Homo sapiens: one gene and its partners. The protein of the gene in region 1 interacts with the protein of each later gene in a pairwise test. Each region holds a gene or a part of one and is shown in the gene's direction. Other genes may lie near its edges. The genes, in order: TMEM132D, ARL3, ATP7A, TUBGCP5 and PTPN2.

The links.
Region 2: the proteins of TMEM132D (region 1) and ARL3 interact in a two-hybrid assay, tested with the Homo sapiens proteins (one large-scale study listed by BioGRID).
Region 3: the proteins of TMEM132D (region 1) and ATP7A interact in a two-hybrid assay, tested with the Homo sapiens proteins (one large-scale study listed by BioGRID).
Region 4: the proteins of TMEM132D (region 1) and TUBGCP5 interact in a two-hybrid assay, tested with the Homo sapiens proteins (one large-scale study listed by BioGRID).
Region 5: the proteins of TMEM132D (region 1) and PTPN2 interact in a two-hybrid assay, tested with the Homo sapiens proteins (one large-scale study listed by BioGRID).

What each region holds. Positions count from the first base shown.
Region 1 is NC_000012.12:129,074,571-129,078,996, reverse strand, and holds part of TMEM132D (transmembrane protein 132D precursor), read left to right. Parts: intron 1-271; coding exon 272-463; intron 464-3,921; exon of another isoform or gene 3,922-3,937; coding exon 3,938-4,426. UniProt on the Homo sapiens protein: Regulate neuronals morphology via inhibition of the WAVE regulatory complex (WCR), a complex that controls F-actin cytoskeletal dynamics.
Region 2 is NC_000010.11:102,707,199-102,711,624, reverse strand, and holds part of ARL3 (ADP-ribosylation factor-like protein 3), read left to right. Parts: intron 1-4,426. UniProt on the Homo sapiens protein: Small GTP-binding protein which cycles between an inactive GDP-bound and an active GTP-bound form, and the rate of cycling is regulated by guanine nucleotide exchange factors (GEF) and GTPase-activating proteins (GAP).
Region 3 is NC_000023.11:77,986,559-77,990,984, forward strand, and holds part of ATP7A (copper-transporting ATPase 1), read left to right. Parts: intron 1-1,683; coding exon 1,684-2,173; intron 2,174-2,674; coding exon 2,675-3,400; intron 3,401-4,426. UniProt on the Homo sapiens protein: ATP-driven copper (Cu(+)) ion pump that plays an important role in intracellular copper ion homeostasis.
Region 4 is NC_000015.10:23,001,078-23,005,503, reverse strand, and holds part of TUBGCP5 (gamma-tubulin complex component 5), read left to right. Parts: coding exon 1-72; intron 73-1,276; coding exon 1,277-1,402; intron 1,403-2,350; coding exon 2,351-2,439; intron 2,440-4,426. UniProt on the Homo sapiens protein: Component of the gamma-tubulin ring complex (gTuRC) which mediates microtubule nucleation.
Region 5 is NC_000018.10:12,810,832-12,815,257, reverse strand, and holds part of PTPN2 (tyrosine-protein phosphatase non-receptor type 2), read left to right. Parts: intron 1-902; coding exon 903-1,055; intron 1,056-4,426. UniProt on the Homo sapiens protein: Non-receptor type tyrosine-specific phosphatase that dephosphorylates receptor protein tyrosine kinases including INSR, EGFR, CSF1R, PDGFR.

The sequences.
Region 1 (4,426 bases):
AAACGGAGCTGATGTGTGGGGTGTGGGGAGAGGGCCAAGCCCTACCTGCCCACTCCTTGACACCACCTTGCTTTATGCAAAAAATGCATTACATTTTCTCAAGCAATACATATGATTCAGAAGGTGGTGTGAGTGGGAAAGGCCTGTTCTCATTCATTCTGGCTCACATGTTGCCCTGCCGCTGCCTGCACACTGGCACTTCCTCCTGTGACTGGAGGCATTGCCTGGACCACAGAAAGCCTTTCCTTGTCATGTCGCTTCTGCCCTCCAGATCCTGTCTCCTCTGTCAGACACCATCCTCGCTGAAAAGACCATCACTGTGCTGGACGAGAAGGTGACCATCACAGACCTCGGGGTGCAGCTGGTGACAGGGCTGTCACTCTCCTTGCAGCTCAGCCCAGGAAGCAACAGGGCCATCTTTGCCACTGCAGTGGCTCAGGAACTTCTGCAGAGGCCAAAACAGGTATGGAGGAGGGCTTGAGACACACTTCAGCAGGGTCCCTCACCAAGTGGATCACACACCAGGCAGGCACCACGCCAGGCGGGTCGCACAATAGAGTGGGATCATATATCGGGCGTTTGTTTCTCCATCTGCAAAGGGCTCTTCTGAAGCAGGTGACTCCTCTGCCTCATGTTTCCCAGCTCCCCCATGCAGAGATGAAAAAAATAAATACATATATACATAAGGATTGCAACATGTGAAAAATGAGAAGCCATTAAGGGGCAGGAGCCCTGGAGGAAAGGCCCACCCCTCATCCACCATAGTGCAAGTGCATGCAGGTGGTCACCTGTGCTCTCCACACGCTTCCTGCTTCCATGAGGGCATGAGGGCACGTGCAGGCTCAGAGCAGGTGCACAGCCTGATGCCAAGGTCCTGCTGGAGCGGAGGGTGACAGACCTGCTGAGTGGGGAGCCTGTGGCGGGAGATCGCTTCCAGACCATTCATTGTTCAGCTCAAGGCAGAAACAGAGAATTCATGGAGATGTCAGTCACAATTTTCTTTTACTTTATTTGGAACCAGTGTGAGCTAATAGAGTGTGTTTTGTGTGTTGTGTGCATATGTATATGTGTGTTGTGTGTCTATGTGTTGTGTACATATATGTTGTTTTTGTGTGTCTGTGTATGCATGTGTGTGTCTTGTGTCAGTATTTTGTGTTGCTTGTTTTGTGTTGTGTGTTGCATGTGTGCTTGTGTTGTATAGGCACCTGTATGCATGTATATATGTGTGTTGTGAATGTATCGTGTGTTGTATGTATGCATTGCATGTGTCTATTTGTTGTTTGTATGTGTGCATATGTGTGTGTGTTGTGGGTCTGTGTCATATATGTTTTTGCTTTATGTGTGTCCGTATGCATGTGTGTCTTGTGTATTTTCTGTTGTGTGTATGCTTGTGTTGTATAGGTGCCTGTGTGCATGTATATGTGTATGTGTGTTGTGTGTATGTGTGTGATGCATGTGTTTGTATGTGGATACAATGGCTTACAAAGGGGACTGTTATAGGGGACCTTTGAATGTAGTAAGTTCTCCCTCATTAGAGGTGGATAAACATTATTTCTTAGAACATAGGAATTTGGGTGAAGCTTGCTTAATAACAAAACATGGTGGTTGCAGGTCATTAGTTCTTTTGCCCCATGAAAAGGGATCATCCTCATGTGGGGCAGCTGGAATCCCTCCGGCCCATATGGGACATTGTTCTGACTGCTTCCCTTCTGGATCAGGAGCCTTTTCTGCGCACTCTTCCTCGGCAGGGTGAGGTACCAGGCCTTCCCTGCCTTCATGCACCAGCTGCGGCTGTGGCCATGTTCAGAGGAGGCAGGAGTGCCACACTGGACTTGCTAAGGGGCACAAAGAGCCTTCCCATTTTCCCAGCCTGCACCTGTCACATAATGCTCCCCTCTCAGGCATGAGCTAATCTCCTAGTCCTTATACTACAGTCTTTGTTTGCAGAGTTTTGGGTTAGAAAACACTTGAAAGTGGTTGATCCCAATAACAGAATCGAATTCTTGGCCAAAGCAAACCTCCTTTTCTCAAGGAAGGATGCCAGCCGAGAGGCAAGTTACAGATAGCAATGAAGAAATAACCTGAGGCTTTTCTCTGTCTTTGTGGGTGATAACATCAGCGGACCACCAGCTAGGCGTTAAGGAAGGGATAAGATGCAGCTAGAAGAAGGCCAGAAGGCTAATCCGTTCCTGACATGCAGAGCTAAACACGCTACCCTGAGATTTGCTCCATGGTTGGTTTGCAGGGCTCTTACTCCCTGCCTGCAACTTGGCTCTGACAGTGGTAGTTTCAAGAACTCCGTTGTGCGTTTGAATGCTCTGCTCAGATTTCATGGCCGATTGAGAGAACCTGGTAAGTCAGTGTCATGTCCAGTAGCTTTTGCACTGTGCCTTGGCAAGGTTATCCGCTTAGCAGGTAGTCCAAGCCAGTGTCTAACAGAATAAGTATTTCTTGGCTGAGCTGAAGGAAAGAGCAGAGGCCACCAGCCACATTTGAGGAGACTTTCTTCTTACTTCCAAAGACTAAACAACAACTGTGTAAAATTACTTCTGTCATGGTCAGGGGCCAGTAGGTCATAAGAGAAAAAAAAATCCACTCAAGCAAAAGCTTAAATAACAAAGGATGTGTTATGAGGATTATAGGGATCTCACAGAACCCAGCTGCAAGACCTTGGAGGAAAGGGAAGGTCAGCACTTTCATGCCCACTCTCTCTCTCACCTGTGTTTTTATTTTGGTCTAATTCATTATTGTCTTCCTATGGATAAATGCCATGCCCAAACATTTGCTTATACATAGTCCATCAGAGGGCTTCATTCCCCAATTTTATATGTGCCCCCACTACACATCTTCCCAAGCATAACTTTGTCAGTCTTGTCTTTCTGGTTTCAAGTTCGAGAGAGAGAGAGTAATGCTGGCTGGCTCAGCATTGCTGAGATTGATGGCTCTAATGGCAGCAGCTGTCTCATTTCAATCAGCTGTTGCTGTGGCCCAGCGGGCAGGGTCATGGGCCACCTAGTGCTGTTCATCATCTCGGGCTTGGGGCGGAGCAGGTTCTCTGAGAGGGAGGGAGGGAGGGAGGAAGCAATGGATCTGCCACTGCTGTCAAGCATAATGTCATCTTCACTAAAATTAAAGGCTGGCATGAAATTGGAGGTTATCTCCAATGATCTGCCTGGTCAAACTATTTGCAAAGAAAGTTGGTCTAAATCAACAAAGTGAAAACAAGCTCTGGCTGCTTTTTGGTCTTCCAGTTTCCTCCAGTTGGGTTGGGTGGAGGAAGAGATGAAGACTCTCCAATCAAGATGCTTCTCCCTCTCCTGCTGTCAGGCTTAACTCCTCCCTCCAAGCCAAGACTATGGCCTGAGGCCAGGACAGATCCACTCCTGCAGACCCAGAAAAGGCAGGGCTGGCAAAACCACAGCCTGCAGCCCTGCAGTGGGACCTCATCTAGATCAGAGGCTTTTATCTGTATTGCCAGTAATCAGTGGAGACTCAGTATTACAACTTAAAAATAATGTAATAAATATTTTTCATTTGAATGTGTAACACTTGTAAATGATTCCACTAACCAGTAATTTCCTTTGTCGTGCAATTTATTATTGTTCAGAAGTTGATTCTGAACAGCCCAAGGGCCCATCTTCCTTTTATAACAACACCTACAGGAGAAAAAAAAAAAAAGCAAATCTTCTTACGGATTGTTTAATACTGGCCCTGTTTTGTCATTTTGTTGTTGTTTTATTTTGCTTTTTTGCATCTTTGTGAGAATTCATTTTCTTTTATACTCTTGGTACTTCTTATCGCTTATTTCTACACTGTTTGAAAGGTTTGTCTTTGTTCTTGTAGCAATAGTTTTGCCGTTGTGTGTCTACTGTACTAAGACTTGGGGCTCAATGAGCTTTTTGGCCCATTTGATTAACTTACATATTTTTCTCCATAGGAAGCAGCCATCAGTTGCTGGGTCCAGTTCAGTGATGGCTCAGTCACGCCCTTGGATATTTACGATGGGAAAGACTTCTCCTTGATGGCCACATCTTTGGATGAGAAGGTAGTCTCCATCCACCAAGACCCCAAATTCAAGTGGCCTATCATTGCTGCGGAAACAGAAGGACAAGGCACCCTGGTCAAGGTGGAAATGGTTATTAGTGAATCCTGCCAGAAATCCAAGCGGAAGAGTGTGTTAGCTGTTGGAACGGCAAACATCAAAGTTAAATTTGGCCAAAACGATGCTAACCCCAACACCAGTGACAGCAGACACACAGGGGCAGGGGTTCACATGGAAAACAATGTCAGTGACAGAAGGCCCAAAAAACCCTCGCAGGAATGGGGGAGTCAGGAAGGACAGTACTATGGCAGTTCTTCTATGGGACTCATGGAGGGACGGGGCACCACGACAGACAGGTCCATCCTGCAGAAGAAGAAAGGCCAG
Region 2 (4,426 bases), on another chromosome or scaffold:
CCACCACGCCCGGCTAATTTTGTGTGTGTGTGTTTTTAGTAGAGACGGGGTTTCACCATGTTAGCCAGGATGGTCTGTATCTCCTGACCTCGTGATCCGCCCGCCTCGGCCTCCCAAAGTGCCGGGATTACAGGCGTGAGCCACCGCGCCCGGCCTGTTCCTATTTTCTAGCTGAAACTGTGTGCAGTGTTATGTATATACATATATATATATAAAAACACACACACACATACATATATATACATATATATATACAGATACATATACATACATATATATATATATATACACACACACACACACACACACAGAAGCTGAATACAAGTCTGTGAAATTCTAAAGCCCATAACATTCATTTCATTAGGACTCTGGTGAAGTGGGAACCCACTCTTCCTGAGGAGATGCTCAGACTTTGTTCCTTAGGAAACATTGTTTGTATTTATTTAGGAGAGGGTGATGAGAAAGAAGACACAGTTTGGATTAAGTTCTCAATTTTGAGCTTTAAGCTGATAGGAGTTCAGTTGAAAGACGTAAAAACAAATGGAAGTCAGTTATATTTAAGCTAGTTATGGGGACCGTATGTACTTGACTGTTGGCTTCGTAATTTCAGAATTCAAATTTTAGCTGGTCCTCACAACCACATATATTTTCCATATACCAACGCATTCCTTCTCCCTCCACCACTCTGGTTTCTTTGAATGACCTAGTTTGTATTGTTTTAGGTCAGGGCACCATGCCTCTGCCAGTAGTTTAAGCTGATTTCGAGGCAGATAAAACGTCTGTAGTCCATAGCACATCTATTCATGATTTGACTGTAGAAAAGTTTGTTTAAATGTTTTGTGGTTGAGTCAGACCACTTCTGCCCACCAGGGTGTAGATAACTTGTATACACACATGCTGGTAACACACAATATACTTTTAACTGAAGTTCATGTTTCTTAAATTGTTTTATTTAATGTCACAGGAATATAAATCCTACATAGAGATCATGCCCGTTTTGCTCACTGTTGTACTTGGGGCACATTAAGGGTGTTTAATGATAATTGCGTGAATGGATATTTTGGCCAAAAAATGCACTTTAAAAATTAATGTCATTGTATTTATACTGCAAAACTCAGCCCTATGATAAATTTAACTTCTAATCGCTGTCTCCCTTCATTTGACAGTTAAAATAAAATATGGGCATATATGTATAGATGCACAGAATAGACTTATTCTGGTCTCTTTCATCCAGCCTCTTAAATCAGCTTACTTTGTACCTTTCAGGCAGAACCCTGATCTCTATAAATATCCTCTTCCCTATTTAGCAAACCCTGATAATCCTGTGATCCCATCCTCAGTAGTTGGATTAATATGATGCTGTATTATATTTGCACTTGTCTTCCCTAGACCATGCTTGAAATGCCATTTATCATTTTGCTGGAAGAAAACATTAGCTGAACTTTGCATTTCTCTGTAATTTCACTCAAAGGTGAAGTATCTGAAGTTATTATTTCCTAATAAGGAAAATTACTCATTAGAAATGTAGAAGCACTGTATTCTACACCATTAGGTTAATAAAGTTTATCTATAGTTAGAATTTTTTTTTTTTTTGAAACAGTCTAGCTCTGTGGCCCAGGCTGGAGTACACTGGTGTGATCTCGGCTCACTGCAACCTCCACCTCGCAGGTTCAAGCGATTCTCCTGCCTCAGCCTCCCAAGTAGCTGGGAATATAGGTGCCCACCACCATGCCTGGCCAATTTTTTGTATTTTTAGTAGAGGCAGGGTTTCACCATGTTGGCCAGGTTGGTCTCAAACTCCTGGCCTCAAATGATCCGCCAGCCTCAGCCTCCCGAAGTGCTGGGATTACAGGCATGAGCCACTGCACTCAGCCTTATAGTTAGAATGATTTCTTTTTCTTTCTTATCTGTGCTTTGCTCCTCTCCTTTTAAGGTGAATAAACATTATGTTTGTCTCTTTTTTTTTTTTTTTTTTTTTGAGACAGAGTCTTGCTCTGTCACCTAGCCCATAATGCAGTGGCCCGACCATAGTTCACTGCAGCCTCAAACTCTTGGGCTCAAGCCATCCTTCTGTCTCAGCCTCCTGAGTAGCTGGAACCGCAGGTGCACACCACCACACCTGGATAATTTTTTTTTTTTTTTTTTGGTAGGGATATGTGTCTCGTGTTTGTTGCCCAGGCTGATCTTGAATTCCTGGCCTTGAGCTATCCTCCTGCCTCAGCCTCCCAAAGCACTGGTATTACAGGTGTGAACCACTGTGCCTGGCCTTGTTTTTCTCTTAATTCTTTAATATCAAATGTAATGAGTGTGGAGCAAGTCTCTGCCTGAAAAAAAAAACAGTATTTTTAGTAACTTCTTTAAAAGAGACACATGAGGAAAAACCCAAAACATTAATTTTAAACTTTGAAAATATTTTATAGGCCGGGTGCAGTGGCTCACTCTTGTAATCCCAGCACTTTGGGAGGCCGTCACGGGCAGATTGCCTAAGGCCAGGAGTTTGAGACTAGCTTGGGCAACATAGTGAAACCCTGTCTCTACTAAAAATACACAAAATTAGCTGGGTGCGGTTGTACACATCTATAGTCCCAGCTACTCCGGAGGCTGAGGTGGAAGGATCACCTGAGCCTGGGAGGCTGAAGCTGTAGTGAACCATGATTTCACCACTGTACTCCAGCCTGGCATTAGGAGTGAGACCTTGTCTCAAAAAAAAAAAAAATATATATATATATATATATATAATATATGGTTTTATTTTTTGTTTTTGTTTTGAGATGGAGTTTCACTTTTGTTGTCCAGGCTGGAGTGCAGAGGCATGATCTTGGCTCACTGCAACCTCTACCTCCTGGGTTTAAGCAATTCTCCTGCCTCAGCTTCCCAAGTAGCTGGGATTACAGGCATGTGCCACCATACCCGGCTAATTTTGTATTTTTAGTAGATACGGGATTTCGCCATGTTGGCCAGGCTGGTCTCGAACTCCTGACCTCAAGTGATCCACCCACCTCGGCCTCCCAAAGTGCTGGAATTACAGGTGTGAGCCACCACACCCGGCCAAAAAAAATTTTTTTTAAAATAGGAAACAGATCTTCCTTCATAATTTCTGCACTAAGCAGAAAATGCATGAGAAGAACTTTGCCTGTGTCATTTAATGTACTAATTTGATAAATTCCAGATGTTTTATAATTTATTTTAAGAGGTAATGAGACCTCTTCTTTTCACTTACAATCAGGAACTCAGGATGAGTAGTAAAATGGGTTTTCCTCTTAGCCTTTTTATGTCACCAGTCCCCTAAGGATCTCAGAATTTTAATTTTTACTTTTCTGAAAGGTGATATTATAAATGAGTGATTGCAATATAGCTAATAGAAACCAGGGAGACTTCTTGTAAATATAGTTTTAAGAAGGAATGCTGTCAAAGTATTCAAGACCAGATGAGATAAAAACAGCAAAAAAAAAAATCTTGCCTTTGGGTGGATCGCTTGAGCTTAGGAGTTCAAGACCAGCCTGGGCAACATGGCAAAACCCCATCTCTACAAAAAATACAAAACTTAGTGGGGCGTGGTGGTGTGAGCCGGTAGTCCCAGCTACTGGAGAGGCTGAGGTGGGAGGATCGCTTGAGCCCAGGGAGTCGAAGCTGCAGTTAGCCGTGTTCACGCCACTACATTCCAGCCTAGGCCACAGAGGAAGACCCTGTCCCCCCAAAAAAAAGAAAAAGGAAAAAAAAGTCTGGCCTTTTAAAAAGCCAGACTTCTGTTTGTTTCCAATCTATTCAATCTCTGTCCCCCAAATCTTTTGGCATAGAATTTGTCTAGCTTAGACTAAACCTTCCATCTTACTGCTGGAAAAAATTGAGGCATAGAAAGGTTAATGTGGTCCTTAGCAAGTCAGTACAGATACAGTACTAGAAGTGGTAAACAAAGAGTCTCTGAGGCAGAAAGGAATTCTTAATAATTATGCATATTTGCGTATGATTGTCCAAAGATGCAGTTGTTGAGAATTATTTCTCAGAAGTATCCTTTGATCTTAGTGAACAAACTGGTTTGAATTATTGCCTGGTACAATGTGAATAACAAATACAACCATTTTGCATAATTCTAAGACTCAGTTTGAAGGAATTTCTTCTTGGGCTGGGAGATTAAATTATATGCCCTTTAAACTCTGGGATTCTTTGACTCTTGTTCTAGCCATGTGTCGTTAGAACAAGATTATCAGCTATAGCACAGAACAAATAACTTTCCTATAAAGATGTTCTTATGTTCTTAACTAAAAATCAACATGGTTTATTTATTTTTTCTTTGTTTTCTTTTTCTTTTTTCTTTTTTTTTCTTTTTGAGACAGAGTCTCACTCTGTCACCCAGGCTGGAGTGCAGTGGTACAAATACAGCTTACTGCAATCTCGACCTCCCAGGCTCTAGCAATTCTCTCACCTC
Region 3 (4,426 bases), on another chromosome or scaffold:
CTCCTCTCTTTCTGATATCAGTTAATGACGCCACCATCTATCTATCCACTGGCCCAAGCCAGATACCTTTAAGTCATCCTAGTCGTCTCCTTTATCCTATACATCTTGTTAGGAGGCCCTACCCTCCTGAATGTATCTTGGAGCTGCCTCTTTTATCTTTGCCCCCAGTATTCATGTCTTAATTCAGACCCTCTATTGCACTACTTTTGCAATTGCAGTAGCCTCCTAGCTGATAGTCCTCCCTCCTGTATCACTCCACCCTACTACACTATCATCTTCCACACTGCCTCCAGAATGATCCTTCTCTAAAATGAAAATCTAATCACATAATTCTCTGCTTAACTTTTCCATGGCTTCCTATTACCTATAGGATAAATCACAACCATTATTGGCATATAGAACCCCATAATAGAGCAGTTGCCTAATTTTCAAGCCTCTTATCTTTCTCTACTTTTTTGTTTCCATTCATCTGGAATTCTCTGCCTCATATATCCTTGCTGATTCCTGTTTGTCCTTTAACATTCAGGTATTATCTCTCCTAAGAATACTTTTCTGACCCATATTCCCAGGGATGAATGGGTATCCCTTTTCTGTATTCTCTGTCCTATTGTTCCTGTGACATGTTCAGCTTTGTATCCTGAGAATCCCAGTTCCTGACGCACATAATAAGTGCTCAATAAATATTAGTTGCTCAATGTTTAATTTTATATAATTCACTGCTGTTACGAAGAACTTTCCTATTTACTCGTATGATCCTTGTAATAGCCCTGGAAGATAATAGGGCATATTTTCTCATTTTTCAGATGGTAGAACTAATGGGTGTGGTTAGCTAATAAGTGGAGAATTGATGCTGGAACTTAAATCTTCTGACTCCCAACCCAGTATTTGTGTGTGTGTGTGTGTGTGTGTGTGTGTGTGTGTGTGTGTGTCTTCATCATGAATCTTTGTAAGATGTCAGCCAAAGAGATGCAATCATGACAGTAGTTAAATTATATGCAGTAACTAAGCTACAAGAATATAATCATTGTTTTATAATCTAATTGGGCAAAACAATAAAGATGTTCTTATTTTGAACAAAATTAATAGTATGCTCTAGTGACTTAGGGGGATATAGGAGTATATGCTATAAAATCCTATGAATACTGCCTTCACTCATAAACCGGCAGGCTTATACTTTTCTTGCCAACAAAGTTATCCTAATTGAACATTATTTTTATTTTTTTAAATTGACATATAATAGTTATACATATTTTTAGGAAATTGGACATTTTAAAATATTAAACTTCATATTACCTTTTATTTTTCTGTAGCTGATCCTGTTTCATGTATAACCTTTTCAGTTGGTAGAGTGTGAAGTGTTGGAGTAATTTATGAAAGGAATGGAAGGAAAGAGTAGTTTGTACTCTGTTGTGAAATTCTTGGGTGTGTTTGTCAATATACATGTTTCAAATGCCTGATAGGTACCACAGTCACATATGTCTGCATATATAACTTTACCATTCTTGTAGGTACACAAGACATTTTATGTTTCTTTCTAACAAGAAGAGTAAAAATGAAAACTAATAGGGAAACTCCATTAGATTGAGTTGTCTCACTCTTCTTGAATGTGGTGTGATGATTATTATTTTAAATCCTGTGTGATAGAATTTAATTAAACTGACTTTTGGAATTTCCTTCCAAAAGGTATCACTGGAAGAAAAAAATGCAACTATTATTTATGACCCTAAACTACAGACTCCAAAGACCCTACAGGAAGCTATTGATGACATGGGCTTTGATGCTGTTATCCATAATCCTGACCCTCTCCCTGTTTTAACTGACACCTTGTTTCTGACTGTTACGGCGTCACTGACTTTGCCATGGGACCATATCCAAAGCACATTGCTGAAGACCAAGGGTGTGACAGACATTAAAATTTACCCTCAGAAAAGAACTGTAGCAGTGACAATAATCCCTTCTATAGTGAATGCCAATCAGATAAAAGAGCTGGTTCCAGAACTCAGTTTAGATACTGGGACACTGGAGAAAAAGTCAGGAGCTTGTGAAGATCATAGTATGGCTCAAGCTGGTGAAGTCGTGCTGAAGATGAAAGTGGAAGGGATGACCTGCCATTCATGTACTAGCACTATTGAAGGAAAAATTGGGAAACTGCAAGGTGTTCAGCGAATTAAAGGTAATGTGTCTGGTGTTGATTGTTTTGTAAGGCTTAGGTGTCTGTTTTGATCTTTTAACTTTTTGCTTTCTTCTTAAGCATGAGTTTTGAATCCATGAGACTAGAGTGCTTGCTGTATCATTGAGGTACAGCATATTCCCAGGATTAAAAGTTAATGATTATAATTAAAGGTTACATAAACCTTGAACTGAAGAAAAGGCAGCTGGGTTGGCAATTCATGGAATTCAAGGTTCTTAACACAACATGACTAGGGTACTCTTTACCTCTAATATATTTTACTTAGGCATGGAGAAACTTGGAGACCATAGCTACAGTGGTCATATCTCTTACTTGTTTCTAGTCTATGCCAATAACATTTTCTGAAAAGAAAAAAAATTAAGAAAATATGATGACAAGAATGAGAGAGAAACAATTATTTGTGGTTATTGATTTAGAAAACAGAATGTTTTCTGAAGTAGCCCAGGAATAACTGAATTAATTATATTTCTTTTTATTAACTAGTCTCCCTGGACAATCAAGAAGCTACTATTGTTTATCAACCTCATCTTATCTCAGTAGAGGAAATGAAAAAGCAGATTGAAGCTATGGGCTTTCCAGCATTTGTCAAAAAGCAGCCCAAGTACCTCAAATTGGGAGCTATTGATGTAGAACGTCTAAAGAACACACCAGTTAAATCCTCAGAAGGGTCACAGCAAAGGAGTCCATCATATACCAATGATTCAACAGCCACTTTCATCATTGATGGCATGCATTGTAAATCATGTGTGTCAAATATTGAAAGTACTTTATCTGCACTCCAATATGTAAGCAGCATAGTAGTTTCTTTAGAGAATAGGTCTGCCATTGTGAAGTATAATGCAAGCTCAGTCACTCCAGAATCCCTGAGAAAAGCAATAGAGGCTGTATCACCGGGGCTATATAGAGTTAGTATCACAAGTGAAGTTGAGAGTACCTCAAACTCTCCCTCCAGCTCATCTCTTCAGAAGATTCCTTTGAATGTAGTTAGCCAGCCTCTGACACAAGAAACTGTGATAAACATTGATGGCATGACTTGTAATTCCTGTGTGCAGTCTATTGAGGGTGTCATATCAAAAAAGCCAGGTGTAAAATCCATACGAGTCTCCCTTGCAAATAGCAATGGGACTGTTGAGTATGATCCTCTACTAACCTCTCCAGAAACGTTGAGAGGAGCAATAGAAGACATGGGATTTGATGCTACCTTGTCAGGTAATTATCATTTTTTCTTTGATTACCCTAATGTTCTTTTACTTCCATTTTGCTGCTTCTTTTGGCATTTATCAATGAGAAATGATTCATAGGCACTGTAATTCCACTTTTGCAAATATGTCCTATGGAGGTAGCCAGCAGTATATACAAAGATGCATAAGGATGTTTGTATAATTGCTTATGATATTTAAAAACTGGAAACAATAACTCGTGGTGCAACAATAAATAACTCATGATGAAATGCTATGAAGTCATAAAACATTATGGTATTAAAGATAATTAATGCCACAGGAAGGTGTCTGAGGTATTTTGTTAAATGAAAAAAAGCTGAAAAGCTATATATACAATGTGATCAAAATTTTATAAAGAAATGTATCTGAATTTACGCCATGTATATATTGTTTATGTATATGAATAAGATTCCTGGTAGGATATGAACCAAAATTTTAACAGTGATTATCTTTGGGTGGTAGGATAAATGTGATTTTTGTTTCCATTGTGTTTCCTGGTTTTATAAGTTGTTTTTACAATAAGAATGTATGTATGTAGCTATGTATTTATATAATGGGGGAAGCCAGTGCTCTTTTAAAAACAAAAGTAGTTGAAATAAATAATAGGATTTTAACTATAATTTTATATTTAGGCATTCAAATTAAACTGACTCCAGAGCTGTCCCAAAGTTTTCGTATTTCCTGACAGCTCTTACCTTTGAACTGAAACAAAAAATGTATATTCAATGGAATTTAATTATGTGAAATTGTTCTTTTGAACCAGAATTGAACCTGGCCTTGAATTAAACTGGAAAATGCCCAAATGAAATTTTTTGCTTGAAATAACAATTGAAACGTTTTACAACCAATTTCTGGACAATATAATTAATCTTTGCTATCCTGATTAGAATGAAAGATATCAAATAGTAGTATTCCCTTTTTAGGCTCACTAAATCTGAGTAAAAAATTTTACTAAACACATGTCTAAATTGTTATGGTAGATTAATGTCAGTGAGAGAGGACTTAGAGACATACC
Region 4 (4,426 bases), on another chromosome or scaffold:
CATCGCATGTTCCTCTTAAGAGTGAAGCTCATGCATTTCGTGAACAGCTTGCACAACTACATCATGACCAGGGTTTGTGCCTCTCCCATCTGCTTCAGTTCTATCGTCGTATCTATACAGTTGTTCGTAGAGAATTACTCATACTATGTTTATAAGTAAAAAATACCTACAGACTGTGAAAACGGGACATGTAGCAAATTTGATCATAAAATAACATGGCAGTGGGAGGAATGTTTTTGTAAATATACCGGAATATGTGTATCCAGAGGCTGTTGTCCCTCCAGTCCAGCAGCCCCTGGGGACAGGCACAGCCACAGCTCGTCTTCTGGAATTGCCTTCAGAATGTGCCGCATAGTCCTTTAGGTTTCAATAGTGGTGACAGCTGTCCCTAAAAAATGGCTCCAATGTTTAATAACAGCCAAAATCCACTACGGTGTGTGGGAGGAAGATGCAGCCAGGTTATAGACTTTTTTCTTAAAAACAAGAACTCACTACAAAGTAAATGAAATTATTTTTCTGATACATCTAAAAGCCAGTTCTAGGGGAAGTTCTAAAAGAAGCGTTCAGAAATTGGAACAAGAGCAGTATTATTAGAGGACAGTATGCATTTGGGGTTTGAATTGTTGTTTAGACCTGTTTATACCTGGTCTGTGAGTTCTGAAACCCAACTTGCTTGGGTGAAGTGAGCCACTGAAGCCTGTGTTTTGGATGGGAAGGCTATGGCAGAGGGGCTCCACGTTTCCCCTGACTGCATTACTGCCTTCACAAGGTTGGCCTTCATTAAGCCCCTAATTGTTAAGAGTAAATGATAAGAGTTTAAGTTTTTTCTTAGTTTGTTTTTTATTTGAGGTATACTTATACTCATTTTAGAGAAAGATCAATGTATGAGAAAAGGAACTTAAGAAACATAAATTCACTGTAATTATTTGTATAAAAGTAACACATTTACTTGATTTTTTTTTTATCGATGTGTCTTATATACAGCTTAATGTGCTTGCCCCTTCCTGCCAGGAAGTCTGTTAGTCCAGAGTTTGGCGTTCATTCATTCACTGTGCAAGTGGGCGTCCTACAGGATTGCCCCCGCCGTCCTCTTAGGATCAGAACGCCAGAGTATCCAGCCAGCCTTTGAAGAATGGTACTTTATGAAACTGTCTAGATGTGCTTATTGAAGGAAGAATTTGAGAGGAGTAGAAGAGCTTAGTAAAAAAGATTTGTGTGCAGCACACAAGTCCTCAAAGAAGGCTGCTGATGAAGCTTTTTATCTTTCTCTTCCAAGATTCTACACAGTACAGGGCTGGAGTTTCAACATCAAGTCGAGGAAGCCAAGGATTTAGATCAATTGATTAAAATTCACTATAGGTATCTGTCAACCATCCATGACCGGTGTCTGCTGAGAGAAAAGGTACATGAGATGTCTCCTGCAGATGTGGCCACTGCTGGGCGAGTGGCGCTGTCTGCGTGCTTTGGAATTTTATGATGATTAAGCTTCTGTCCTGTAGAATATTCTTTAAGGAAGAACCAGATGAAATGAGGTTACAAACAAATGCCCCAGGCCGGCCACAATGGCTCATGCCTGTAATCCCAGCACATTGGGAAACTGAGGCAGGCAGATCTTATGAGGCCAAGAGTTCAAGACCACCCTGGGCAACATAGCAAGACTCTGTCTTTACAAAAAGTTAAAAAGATTAGCAGACATGGTGGTGCATACCTGGAGGCCCAGCTACTTGGGAGGCTGAGGTGGGAGCATTGTTTGAGGCCAGGAGTTTGAGGCTGCAGTGAACTATGATCTGACACCACTGCACTCCACTCCAGCTTGGGTAACAGAGCAAGACCTTGTCTCTTAAAAAAAAAAAAAAAAAAAAAAAAAAAAACAGAAGGAGGAGTGCCCTATTCGTAGAAATTGTATCTAAGAGCAACATGAGAACTATGTGTGATAGTCAACACTCACTCTGCGTTACTCTTGGATTCATTTGGAAAATTGTGTCTGCAGTTGCGGAGCAATAGCATGTCCACTTCATGTGAATAGATAGAATTCAGTAATGTTAAAACCATTGCAATTATTTGTCCTAGTTTCATTGGTGAATTTAAATGGCCATCCCAGGAAAAGGTCTTAATAGTTTGTTTTGTTGGTTTGACTGTACTGCTAATATCACTTGTATCTTACATTCAGTGAATGCATGTGCCTGGTCCCAAATGGGCATGGTTCAGAGCCTAGTACCCTTCCATATACACAGAAGGCAGTCACTGTGGTGATGAACTTTTTCTGTGATTCATTTAAAATAGGTAAAAGTGTTGGTATCAGTGTCCAAACCTAGTTACACAGTTTGTGTTCTGTGACTTTGGTCTGCAGGTCAGCTTTGTGAAAGAAGCTATCATGAAGGTGTTGAACTTGGCTCTCATGTTTGCAGACGGTTGGCAGGCAGGCCTGGGCACTTGGCGGTAAGTATGTGATTTCTGCAGCATCTGCACTGTGACCATTTCAGCTTCAGCTTCCCTTTTTTTTAGAGACAGGGTCTTCCCAGCCATTCAGGAGGCTGAGAGGAGAGGATTGCTTGACCCCAGGAGTTCAAGACTAGCCTGGGCAACATAGCAAAACCCAGTCTTTAAAAAAAAAAAAAAGTGCAAGTATTTTTTGAGAAGTAAAACATTTTTAAAAATCTGAGGTCTTCTGATTTAAACAAGCAAACATTTTTAGATTATACTCATGTTATATTGTGTACGTTTTGTTAAATTTTTATCATGGACACCTTCAAACTGAAGTGGCAAAGACAGTGTTGTGAACACCGTGATGGCACCTGCTTCAGCTGTGCCAGTGAGGACAGCTCTGTCATGTCTGTGCCCACCTCCCCAGTCACACTTGCTGAATTATTTTAAATCAAATTCTGGACATCATGCTAGACTATTCTCCAAAGTTGTATTTTGGATGAGCTCTAAAAGATGCTGTGTTTTGAGAGTGTTTGTTATTCACACACATCACATAGGCAAGTGCACTGAATCAGGGGAAGTGGCCCGGGAGCAGCTCCCTCTAGCACTGCCATCCTCTACTGTTAACTCCAGTGTACAGCTCAATATTTTGTTACCTGTCCTGTTTATAAAGTCAGTGCAACAGTAATTCTGCTGTTACTTCCATGAAATAAAAGTGCATGTTTGGTTGACTGTACTTACTCCATGTCAGTAAGGAAGTAAGAATTCATTTGAGTGCTAGTATAATTCGAAATCTCCCATTGGCTGTACTCGGAATCAAGAAACTAAGGTAGTAGATGAAGCCATAGCTGCAGGGATGGAAATAGAAGTCTTCCTCGCTTTATATTGCTGGCTCAAAGTGTGCAAAATATATTTTGCTTTTTTTTTTTCTTTTTTTTTTGTCTCACTTTGGGGTGGAGGAGAAATAACACTGCTGCATATGCTTTGCTGAAATTCAACTCTTTCAGGTTTTTTTTACAAATAAATGTGAGAAAAATACAGGGGGTGAGGAACTTAAGAAGTCTATCAACCATCGCAGTTTATGGATAAGTTAATTGTTCCTGATTGAGACTTAAAGCCGAAAAGTGAAAAATTGTAGAAGCAATGTGAAATTTGCTTGAATGCTATTAGATGATATTTTTGAGCAAATGGTGTTGTGGCTGTGTTTTGAAAGGAGTCTTTATCTTTAAAGTATACATTTATACTTATGAAATATTCATGACTGTGGTGCTCTGATGTCTCCTGTTTGCTTCTGAATATTGTGGTGGGGCTGTGGAGGTGTAAGCTTGGCATGTGGCACCTGCCATGGCTGGGCAGTGGGCCATGGAAACCCCTTCTGAAGTTCTCTCTTACAAAGTGTTTGATATTTCTTTAAAAAAAAAAAAAAGAAAGAAAGAAAGCCGAGCACAGTGGCTTACGCCTGTAATCCCAGTGCTTTGAGAGGCTGAGGTGGGCGGATCTCCTGAGGTCAGGAGTTCGAGACCAGCCTGACCAACATGGAGAAACTCCATCTCTACTAAAAATACAAAATTAGCCAGGCGTGGTGGTGCATGCCTGTAATCCCAGCTACTTGGGAGGCTGAGGCAGGAGAATTGCTGAACCCAGGAGGCAGAGGTTGTGGTGTGGTGAGCCGAGATCGCTACATTGCACTCCAGCCTGGGCAACAAGAGCGAAACTCTGTCTAAAAAAAAAAAAGGCAGCCAGGCTCCATGGCTCACAACTGCAATCCCAGCACTTTGGGAGGCCAGTGGGGGCAGATCAGCTGAGGTCAGGAGTTCGAGACCAGCCTGACCAACATGGCGAAACCCCATCTCTACAAAAAATACAAAAATTAGCCAGACATGGTGGTGGGCATCTGTAATCCCAGCTACTCAGGAGGCTGAGGCAGGAGAATCACTTGAACCCAGGAGGCGGAGGTTACAGTGAGCCGAGATCGTGCCACTGCTCTCCAGCATGGGCGACA
Region 5 (4,426 bases), on another chromosome or scaffold:
GTATTTTTAGTAGAGACGGGGTTTTACCATGTTGTCCAGGAAGGTCTCAATCTCTTGACCTCATAATCTGCCCACCTTGGCCTCCCAAAGTGCTGGGATTACAGGTGTGACCCACCACATTTTTATTTATTTATTTATTTATTTATTTATTTATTTATTTATTTATTTATTTTTGAGATGGAGTCTCGCTCTGTCGCCCAGGCTGGAGTATAGTGGCACTATCTGACCTCACTGCAACCGCCGCCTCCTGGGTTCAGGCGATTCTCCAGCCTCAGCCTCCAATGTAGCTGGGATTACAGACATGCGCCGCCACACCCAGCTAATTTTTGTATTTTTAGTAGAGATGGCATTTCGCGATGTTGGCCAGGCTGGTCTCTAGCTCCTGGCCTCAAGTGATTTGGCCTCCCAAAGTGTTGGGATTACAGGCATGAGCCATCATGCCTGGCCTCTTTTCCACCATTGTTAGATGGGTGCTGTATATCCAGACATCGTGTCTGTAGTGCAGACATGAAGGAGGCGGAAGGGGAATGAGCAGAAAGGTTGACTCCTGCCATGACTTTTAAAAAAAAAAATAGTCCTTATACTAGCCAGAACTGGTTATAAATCCTTCCTTTAACCAATGACTGGCCAGAAGGAATGAGATTACTATGATTGGTTTGGAATCAGTTGTGAATCAGCTAAAGAATCAAAGTCCTCCAACTACTTGAGGGGTTGAGATGTGGGGAGGGATGAGTAGGCTGGGATAGTTGTTGTGTACATAACAGTTATAGCTGGAGGGTTAAATTATCGTTGTTCTTTCAGAGGAGAAAATGCATAGCAAAAATCTTAGCAATGATCTTGCATTGATTCTGTTTCCTGGGTTCCAATAACAAGACTTGTCTCATTTTTTGCCTTTCTTGCAGATGGAAAAAGGAGATGATATTAACATAAAACAAGTGTTACTGAACATGAGAAAATACCGAATGGGTCTTATTCAGACCCCAGATCAACTGAGATTCTCATACATGGCTATAATAGAAGGAGCAAAATGTATAAAGGGAGATTCTAGTATACAGGTAAACTTCATACAGGTTTTAAATCATATCTATTTGTTAAATACACATAGCATCAAATAACTGCACTCCACTTGAGCCCTTGTCTTTGTTTCAAAGAGTGTATTTGAATTTTTGTGGTAAATCCAGCTGGCTGTCTTAAAATTGTAAAATTTTAGCTAGCTTCCTCATATATACTCAGCCTCAGGTTAAATCCTGTGTGTTACTTAAAAGCCCTTGTAGAAACAAGATTTCATTAAAGAAACTGAATTTTTCATTTTGGGGGTGGTTAATCTTTTAATTATTAAAGTAACTGGAAACTTGAGATACTTTTGCCTTCATTAAACACTGATACTTGGTTTATGTGATATTTGACTTTATAACAACAAGCAACTTGAATATTTATGGCAGATATAATGAAATTCCAGCAAAATGTTATATTCTTCTGGTTGGTGGCTTTATTCTCATTAAGCTATTTTTACTGCATATTTGTAGAACCTAAGTTCAAAGACTGATCAGAAACTTGTGTTATGTACTAAGTTAAAATGTAAAATAGAAACAACCACAGACTCCATTTTTTGTCTGGTTTAATCACATAGTATTGGACATAAGCAGATACTGTAAGTTGATGCATAATATAAGAAGATCGACTGTCTTTTCATTATGTTTCTCATGTGTGAACATATTTACTAGCACTTTCATTTCTCTGATTACTAGCCAATATAAGAATGTAAATTAGATCGGACCATTGGTGTCAGAATAAAGGTTTATTTAAAAAGATTTTTTCCAAATCTTTAAATAGCATTAAAATATTCTTAATGCACAGAAACATTAGGGCACTCAGAGCCAAAATACGCAATGTTTGGGAAACTCAGCCCATTAGAACATGTCCTGCTTCAGACGCCAGACTTTGGGAACACTGGATTTGCCAGGGTCACTTTGGCAGTGATCAGTGATTTAGGTGAAGTAAAAGTTATTTCAGATGTTTAAGATTAGGAAAATTTCCCTTTCTAATCACAGTGAGCTTTCACCAACTTAAATCTGGAGTTCAAAAAGAAAAGTAGTTCAATCAGATTTCCCCATGCCTTCACAGCCTGCATGCCGCCTTCCCTGCCTGCTTCCTGGCTGTGATGAGACGGGTAACTGGGAGGGAAATGTATTGTCCTTTGGATTGTGTCTTTCCTACCACTGCTTTTTTTTTTTTTAAGTTTTGTGTCTTTAGTTTTAGAATACATACTTTATCTGAGGGTGGATCTTTTTTTATCACAGAGATGAGTTTTTCTGGACACACTTTTTTGTGGAGTCTTTGACAGTGCAGTTTGTGGCTAGGAAGGATTTTTTTTCTGTTAATTTATCTGGTGTGATATTGTCCTCAGGCTCTCAATTCTAAGGCATTTTCTGCCCCTATTCCAGATAGGATATTGGAAACATCTTTATCCTTCAGGTACTCAGGATCAGAAAAGCATGCTGCCCATTCCAAGGGGTTAATTTCTGCAGAAATGGTCTTGGCATTCTGAGAATCTTTTTTAATTGGTGCATTTAGACCATCGGCATATGAAGTGATTACTGATAAAGTTGGATTAATAAATACATACCACACATGCTACTGGTTTTTTTTTCTTTTTTTGAGACGCAGTTTTGCTCTTGTTGCCCAGACTGGAGTGCAATGGCACAATCTCGGTTCACTGCAGCCTCTGCCTCCCAGGTTCAAGTGGTTCTCCCCACTCAGCCTTCCGAGTAGTTGGGATTACAGGTGCCTGCCACCACTCCTGGCTAATTTTGCATTTTTAGTAGAGATGGGGTTTCACAGTGTTGACCAGGCTGGTCTCGAACTCCTGACCTCAAGTGATCGCCCACCTCGGCGTCCCAAAGTGCTGAGATTACAGGCGTGAGCCACCGCACCCAGCCCAAAGTGATTGTATCTTAAGTCTGTAAATATGTGTAATTATAATCTTAAAGCATGTATTCATTTACAGAAAACTTCCAATGACTTTGACATTCCTATAGACATATAGGCTATTTGCAATTGCCTTTCAGCACAAGGTCAGGCATAAATACTTAAGCTGGTTGCTGGTATTACCACATATTTATTAGCATATTCCCAGTATTGATGATGACAGTTAACCCCCCAGAGTAAATATCTAGTTTGGCAATTCAGAACTAATGTTGTAAGATCTCTAGCTGGTAATTTGATATTACTAATAAAGTATTAAATGTAAATGATAAACTTTTAACAAATTACAGAGGATTTGAAGTTTAATTGCATTGCTTAAAGCTTTCTTCAGTGAGAGAAATGGGTAGAGCTAGGGTTCTAGGCATTGTGTGGGGGGCATGGCTCCTAGTGGCAGTGACTCATGGGTTGGTGCAACGTGAGCACAGAATTAGAAAGAAAGATGAAACAGTACCAGGCCTCAAAATGAGAGCTCCTTTGAGGTTATAGTTTAGTGAAATGTAATTCCTTGGCTTCACCAGTCAGCATTAATGACCTGAGGCAGGTGACTCAGGAGTGCTGGCTCCCTTGTGTGTCACAGGGAGGACAGAGACGAGTGAGTTTGCTGAACCTATATAGGCATGAGTGAGTTTGCTGAACATAGGCACGAGTGAGTCTGCTGATCATAGCCATGAATGAGTCTGTCGAACATAGCCATGAGTGAGTTTGCTGAACATAGCCATGGCAAAATGACATTGTTGGGTTTGTGGGGTTTTTTTAATTCACTAGCATTAAATATCTCTTTTATTTCTCTCTCTGCCGAGTGCTTTCCTTGTTGACGTATTCTGAATTTGTTGCATATTCTGGGAAGTGGTCCAGTGAGACTTGATTTTTGGTGTCATCTTATTTGTTGACATTGTTGAGTGTTGTCCAGCTATAAGGCCAAGTTACATAACTAGGTCTCAGTCAAGAGTGGAAACTTCAAAAATTGACCAGTGTAAATTCTGGAGACAATTTAACATTTTTGTGGGGTACTTTGTTGAACACACATCTTTATAAGGGGTCACAGCATAGTCAACCCAGACTTGCCTAGGTTAAAATTCTGTCTCTACTATTTGTTAGGTGCATATCCTTGGGCGAGTTACCTAATTATTCTCCCCACATCTTCCGTAAAAAGGGTGTAATAATGGTAATATTAGTATTAGTGCTTATCTCCTAAGGTTATTGTGAGGATTAAGAGCTAGCACATTTGAAGTGTTAGAATATGGCATGGAGAGTAGCAAGTACTCCATGTCTTCACTATAAAAGATTTGGATTGAGTAACAAAACAAACAAGGGAACAAAGAAAATAGACAGTCATCTAAGTGAAGACATCCTTAATTACTCCTGTGTTCCATTATATTGTAGTTTCTTGATTGTTGGCACAGTATTCTTTCGGGGACATGGTTTGCGCCCTCTTAGGGCT